2 linked regions of the Homo sapiens genome follow. The protein of the gene in region 2 interacts with the protein of the main gene of each other region in a pairwise test. Each region holds a gene or a part of one and is shown on either strand. Other genes may lie near its edges.

The links.
Region 1: the proteins of CUL9 (region 2) and PLXNB3 interact in a two-hybrid assay, tested with the Homo sapiens proteins (one large-scale study listed by IntAct).

What each region holds. Positions count from the first base shown.
Region 1 is NC_000023.11:153,767,249-153,771,056, reverse strand, and holds part of PLXNB3 (plexin-B3 isoform 1 precursor), read right to left. Parts: coding exon 3,144-3,808; intron 2,809-3,143; coding exon 2,629-2,808; intron 2,110-2,628; coding exon 1,981-2,109; intron 1,896-1,980; coding exon 1,795-1,895; intron 1,251-1,794; coding exon 1,118-1,250; intron 966-1,117; coding exon 809-965; intron 720-808; coding exon 611-719; intron 530-610; coding exon 415-529; intron 300-414; coding exon 174-299; intron 93-173; coding exon 1-92. UniProt on the Homo sapiens protein: Receptor for SEMA5A that plays a role in axon guidance, invasive growth and cell migration. Stimulates neurite outgrowth and mediates Ca(2+)/Mg(2+)-dependent cell aggregation.
Region 2 is NC_000006.12:43,222,627-43,225,380, forward strand, and holds the end of CUL9 (cullin-9), read left to right. Parts: coding exon 1-15; intron 16-152; coding exon 153-270; intron 271-637; coding exon 638-771; intron 772-1,468; coding exon 1,469-1,542; intron 1,543-1,623; coding exon 1,624-1,819; 3' UTR 1,820-1,961; downstream 1,962-2,754. UniProt on the Homo sapiens protein: Core component of a Cul9-RING ubiquitin-protein ligase complex composed of CUL9 and RBX1. The CUL9-RBX1 complex mediates ubiquitination and subsequent degradation of BIRC5 and is required to maintain microtubule dynamics and genome integrity.

The sequences.
Region 1 (3,808 bases), on a different chromosome or scaffold from region 2:
CCTGAATCCCCTGCTGTCTCCTCCAGGGTGGCCGGCAGTCCCCGAAGTTCTCCAGGCAGCTCCAGCCAGCAGTGGAAGGAGGCAGGCAGGCCCTGGGGAAGGACGCTGTCAGGAGTGTGGACACGCTGTTGGCAGACCTCACTGCCCTGTCCCCTTCCCTCCTGATGGCTCACTCGGAAATGTTGAAGGTTCCGCACGCGTAGGGCCAAATGGCTCTCCCAGCCCACAGGCACCAGGTGGGGACCTGCCAGGCCTTCGACCTGTGGGCAAGCCCCTGGGCCACGCACCTGGATGTCCACCTGGGAAAACAAGAGCCCTCAGCCCTTCAGAACTCAAAGGGCCTACTGCTGGGCGGGTCTGGGAAGGGTGGAGAAGGGACAGCCCTGTCTCTGCCCGAAGTTCGGGCCCACCCACCTCCTGGGCGCTGTAGATGGTCCTCTCGCCCTCTGGGCAGTGCTCTCCGTACACGCAGTGGCTACTCTGCGGGCACCAGTGACACCGCCAGATGCTGCCCACGCAAGCGCGACACCTAGAGGGGCAGGGTGGCTGCTCAACTGAGTGCCCTCTGGGGTCGCCACCCCTACCCCAGGAGGCAGGCCCAGGGACTCACGGGGCAGCCGCCTCCAAGGCCTGGACGGCACTGCAGTCATAAAAGGAGAAGTTGGTGGCAGCCACAGTCACGTCCTCGAACATCAGGGCCAGGGGCACAGTGACGTGGTCTGGGAGGGGACAGTGGGGGCAGGACAGGTCAGGTGGCTCATTACCCCTCCAGCCTCCATCCCAGCCCCCTACCCCATGGGCCACTCACCTGTGCCTGGAGGGTTAAGTGGCACCTGGTCTTGGGGAGGGGTGACACAGGCCACGTGGGGCCCTTCCACATGAGCCAAGCTGTCATAGTCCCCGAACGCACAATGGAAGTATTCATCTGCATCCAGGATGGGCAGCCGGGGGACAGACAAAGTGACCTGGGATGCAGCGGGGAGAAACCGGGAGATGTAGCCAGAGAGAGGGGGCAGCAGAGGCCATGGGAGAGGAAGGAGGACGGGAGGCAGGCGGGGTTCATGCTCCAGGCAGTGGTCATGCTGCCCAGAGGGCCCAGTGGTGGTGGGCGGCTTACCTGGCCCTGCTCCTGGCGGGGGTGGTGGCCCGGCAGCAGGCTCTGGATGTGCAGGCAGTGGCTGTCCTCCTCATAACTCCACAGCCACTGGTTCAGCTGGCCTGCCCGCCCGCACTGGCCCTTCCGGGTACACCTGCCAGGCAGGGGTCCATCAGGTCACCGTGGGGGTCCTAGACTCCAAGGATGACCGGCAACAGGGGCCTGGGGAGGCCGGCCCAGCTGGAGTGCAGTGGGGTGCAATGAGCAGGAGGCGTGAAGGGGACTGTGTCCAGAGAGAAAGGGGCCAAGCAGGCAGGGCCTCATGGCCAAGGCGTGGGCTCCAGCCCTGAGAGGCAGGTGCGGCTGGGCTGAGGGACGCACAGTGACTCAGGGCTGCCTTAAAGGATTCCAGGGGCTGCCGTGTGGAGCACCGGCTGGAGGACAGCTGTGTGGGGTTCTGGACCCTGGCTGGGGCTGCTGGGATGAGGAGTCCACAGGCCGGGTGGTGTCGGAAAAGGGGGGTGCCAACCAGATTGACGGCTCAGTGAGATGGGGCAGGATGGGTGACCTCCGTGGTGGCCCTGAGTCTCTCCAACAGGCAGGGTTGGCCTCCCGGCACGCCTAGGGCTACTTCCAGGGGCAGCCTCGTGGCACACACCACCCGTTGGCCCTAGCCTAGGCACAGGCCCCGTGCTCACCTGCCCTGGAGGACACACCAGCCACACAGCGGGTCCTGGGCCTGGAGGCAGCTGGCACAGTCAGGGAACTGGGGGCAGGCTGCCACAGGTATCCGGTCCACCTGGAGGGGCAGCAGAGCAGAGAGGCAATGGGCACGAGACTTGGGCCGCGTGTGCTGGCCCCTTCAGCCCCAGGATGGCCCTCACCTGGTGGGCAGTCAGGACATAGAGGTGACTGCCACTGCTGTCCAGCAGCAGGTCTGGGCTGATGGCTGAGCCTGGAGGCCCCACTTGCTGGGAGTGGTAAACCTGGCCCTGGGAGCCGTGGAGAAAGACCTGAGTGGGGGGACAAGGACGAGGCTGGGCCAGATGGCCAAAGGTTGCCTGTTCCAGGGACACGCCCTCCTCCTAGTGGGGGCTCCTTTTTAGAGCCAGTTCCCCTTCCTGCCGGGCCATCGAGGGAGGACACATCACTTCCCCCACTCAGCACCCTCAGGCCTAGGACACTCTCCAGGGAACCATGACACCGGGGCAGCAGCGGCACCCTGGGTGAGGCCCCGTGTACCAGGGACAGTTCTGCCAGGTGGGAGGGCAGCTATGGGGAGACAGGAAGGTCACCAGGAGGCACCACACCCTGCCCACCTCACCCAGCCACCCCAGCCACCTTCACCGTGAGCCACCACCAGCTGGTGAAGGCCGGGCTGCAGGGGGCAGTGCTCAGCCAGCAGTCACTGTGTGGCAAAGTCCCCTGACCCAACCGTGGGATGCGGGCTAAGAGGTGGAAGTTGCTGGGGGCTTTCCTGAGCCTCCGTGGCCAGGGGCACACCCAGCCGGACAGCAAGGCCGGGCCCTCACCTTGTACAGCTGGCCCTGGGTGTCCCCCAGGAAGGCTATCATGTGCCCATCTGCCTGGAGAGCTGCCACGGCGCTGACCGGCTGCCCGAGCTTCAGCAGAGGCTGGACCTCCAGGGGCTGGCGGCCAGCAATGGGGCTGGGGGTGTGCTCGTCGCCACAGGGGTACGACTCGGGGGAATCCTACGTGGCAGGAAGTGGAGAATCAGCCCCCGGAAGAGAGCAGAGAGGCAGTCAGGGGGGGTACCCAGGCTGCCAGCGGGAGGAGAGCCAGGCACCCTGGGATGACCCCAAGGCCCAGCAATCAGGGCCGAAGGGCCAGGGCACCTGGCAAGCTCATAGCATCCAGAGGGAGAAAGGTGGAAAGAAATGGGTGGAGAGCAGGCAGGAGACCTGGAGACTCAGCTGACCCCTGGCTGAGAGGTTGGCTGGCACTTCCCATGGGCAGGCACCCCTGTCCAGTGCTGAAAGATGCCAGCCATCCACAGAGAGGGGGGATGGAAGGGCATGCCACTCACAAGGGGCAGGGTGACGCAGCGCGACGTGACGCCGTACTCCACGGTGGCTTCCTCTGCGCCGCTGGGGCCCCGGCCGCCCGCCGTGTAGCAGAGTCTCCGGGCCTGCTCCATGCTGGCACCCAGCTCCACCATGGGGAAGGCACAGAGCGCCGCCTGGGTGCCCCTTGGGCCCGCGGCAAACACCCCTAGCAAGGTGCCCGGGGCAAGGAAGGCGGCCTGGATGAGGCCCTGGCCCTGGCAGGCGAGGGGGACCTCCACGTAGGAGTACAGGTTGGTGTCCCCCAGGCAGACGCGGGCCACGTAGGAGCGGTACTCAGCCTGGGCCCGGGCCCCGCGGCGGCGGAACACGAAGTAGGCGGAGCGGGCGTCGGCAAAGGCCCCGACGTAGCTGTTGTTGTAGTCGGAGAAGTCGCCCACCACCAGGCGGCCCAGGCCCTCGCTGGAGAAGGGCTGAGACCCGGCCAGCTGGCGGATGGCCAGGGGTGGCACCCCTGCCGACAGCTTGCCCGCCAGGCCTCTGGCCACAAGCAGGAGGTCCCGGCCGGGCAAGGGCACCACCAGCCCCACCGTTGCCACTCCCGGGGTATTGGCAGCCACAAACTGCCCGTCACCAGGGTCCTCAGCCTGGTACAGCACCTCGGCCACATCCCCAAGGCGCCGTGTCT
Region 2 (2,754 bases):
GAGCAGGCTCGGAAGGTGGTAGCGGGTGGGGGAAGAGAGCAGGGGAGGGGTGTGCCAAATGGGTCTGGGGGGCTTGGCTGCTTTCATCGGACTTGCCTGGGTGAAGGGAATGAGGAGAGGGCAGGCGGGAGAGCTGATGGGAGCCCCTGCAGGTGCTGGCCTACGCCTGCGTGTACAGCTTCTACAGCCAGGACGCAGAGTACATGGATGTGGTGGAGCAGCAGACAGAGAACCTGGAGCTGCACACCAATGCCCTGCAGATCCTCCTGGGTGAGCCACCCCTGCCAGCCAGGCCCTCCTCCTGCCTCCTCCCCTCTGTTGCACAGCCCGGCCCCTCCCAGACAGGTCAAGCGGCACCCTTACCTTCCCTCTCTCCTCTTCCTCTTCATTCTTCATGGCCTTCTCACTGCCTGGCTGTTAAAGCTCAGGTCGAAAGCCTACATTGTAAGGTGCCCAAGGGCGCAGATGTTCGTGGATGTTTCTTGGTTTCTGGTCTTTACCCTGCTCCCCTAGGGAGCTTCATGAGAATGTCTAGAGCTGCACCTGGTGCTTGGTAGACGTTCCATAGGTGTTTGTTGGAGGAAGGAATGGATGAGAATGAGAAGGGAGGGAGCCTCTGTGCCTGCCCCCTCTGCAGAGGAAACCCTGCTGCGGTGCAGAGACCTGGCCTCCTCCCTGCGCCTCCTGCGGGCCGACTGCCTCAGCACGGGCATGGAGCTGCTCCGGCGGATCCAGGAGAGGCTGCTTGCCATCCTGCAGCATTCTGCCCAGGTACTGCCCGGCCCAGACCCCTTCTGCTCCTGCATTCTGCGGGAGTTGAGGTCCTCCTGTCCCAGCACAGCCCCTGCCCTGGGGCGAGTCCAGAAGGAAAGGCAGCAAAGCGGGTGAATGGATGTTAGACCTGGGCGCACATCCCGGCTTTTGGGCCAACCTGCCTGATGCTGCTGGACCCTATCACTTCACCTCCTGGGGATTCCTACAAAATAAAGGGGTTGGCTAGCCCACATCAAGGGTATTTGGTCAGGTGCCTATCAGAATCACTTGGGGAACTTTTCCAGACTGTACTTCCCAGATAGGGATTTGAAATCCTAAGAGTGGGCATCAGGGGATTGGGGTCACTGGAGCAAGGGCTCTCCCAGGCTCTCTCCAGCTCTAATGCACTGATGCTGAGTCTAAACTGTGAGTCCTGTCCTCAGGTTGCTTACTGACTGGTAAGTCACATGGGCAGAAAAGACATAGATTCTGTAAGCTCTTTAAGCACAGGGTCGTGTGCCTCACCTGGTACCCCGTATCCCTGGAGACCATCTGTGGGTGAACTCACAAAGGCAGTGTTTCATGAAGTGCTGTGCTGGGAGGGGAGCAGTCCTAGCAGGAGCTTGGCCCTCCCAGAGCATCAGTGGAAGGAATGCTGGGTCCAAAGGCCCCATGCCCTCTACCTCCTTCTCAAATCCTTCTGTCTGCTCACCAGGATTTCCGGGTTGGTCTTCAGAGTCCATCAGTAGAGGCCTGGGAGGCAAAAGGACCCAACATGCCTGGCAGTCAGTAAGTGGGGTGGGCAGAGCCATGGAGGAGGCAGTGGGACATGGCAGCCTCCTCTGGGCTGAGTGTGGTGGCTCTCCCTAGGCCCCAGGCCTCCTCAGGGCCAGAGGCAGAAGAGGAGGAGGAAGACGATGAGGATGATGTGCCCGAGTGGCAGCAGGATGAGTTTGATGAGGAGCTGGACAATGACAGCTTCTCCTACGATGAGTCTGAGAACCTGGACCAAGAGACTTTCTTCTTTGGTGATGAGGAAGAGGATGAAGATGAGGCCTATGACTGAGGGGGCAGATGCAGGAAACACCTAGAGCAGCCCCAGAGTCACGGGGCTGAGGGGGCGGGAGCTGCCCCTGTCATAGGGAGGGGGATTCCCAGCGTCTGTAGTGCTTCCTGTTTGCTGAATAAAGGTCTCTTTCTCACACACATCTCTGGGAGCAGGCTGACAGCTTCACCAGGGGCCAGCCAAGTTGCCACTGCCCTGGCCTCATATCTACCCACACCCCTCATCTTTATGTTTCCTTTAGACCTCCGGACTCTTCTATCCTCCGAGAAGGCTCAGAGCAGATTCATTTGACTTAAGCTGATAAAGGGAAGTGAAGGTTGGCATGGAAAGGGCCACGTGCAGCCCCAGCCCAGTTCAGAGGAGACAGAGAGAGGGATGGCCACCCACAGGAGCAACCATCCTCCCAACTCTTTTTTTTTTTCTGAGATGGAGTTTCACTTTTGTCCCCCAGGCTGGAGTGCAATGGTGTGATCTCGGCTCACTGCAACCTCTGCCTGATGGGTTCAAGCGATTCTCCTGCCTCAGCCTCCTGAGTAGCTGGGATTACAGGCATGCACCACCATGCCCAGCTAATTTTTATATTTTTAGTAGAGACAGGGTTTCCCACATTGGCCAGGCTGGTCTCGAACTCCTGAGCTCAGGTGATCCGCCCGCCTCAGCCTCTGAAAGTGCTGGGATTACAGGCGTGAGCCACTGTGCCCAGCCCTTCCTCCCAACTCTTTTTTTTTTTTTTTTTTTCTGAGAGGGAGTCTCGCTCTGTTGCCCAGGCTGGAGTGCAGTGGCGTGATCTGGGCTCACTGCAAGCTCCACCTCCCGGGTTCACGCTATTCTCTTGCCTCAGCCTCCTGAGTAGCTGGGACTACAGGCGCTCACCACCTCGCCCGGCTAATTTTTTGCATTTTTAGTAGAGACGGGGTTTCACCGTTTTAGCCAGG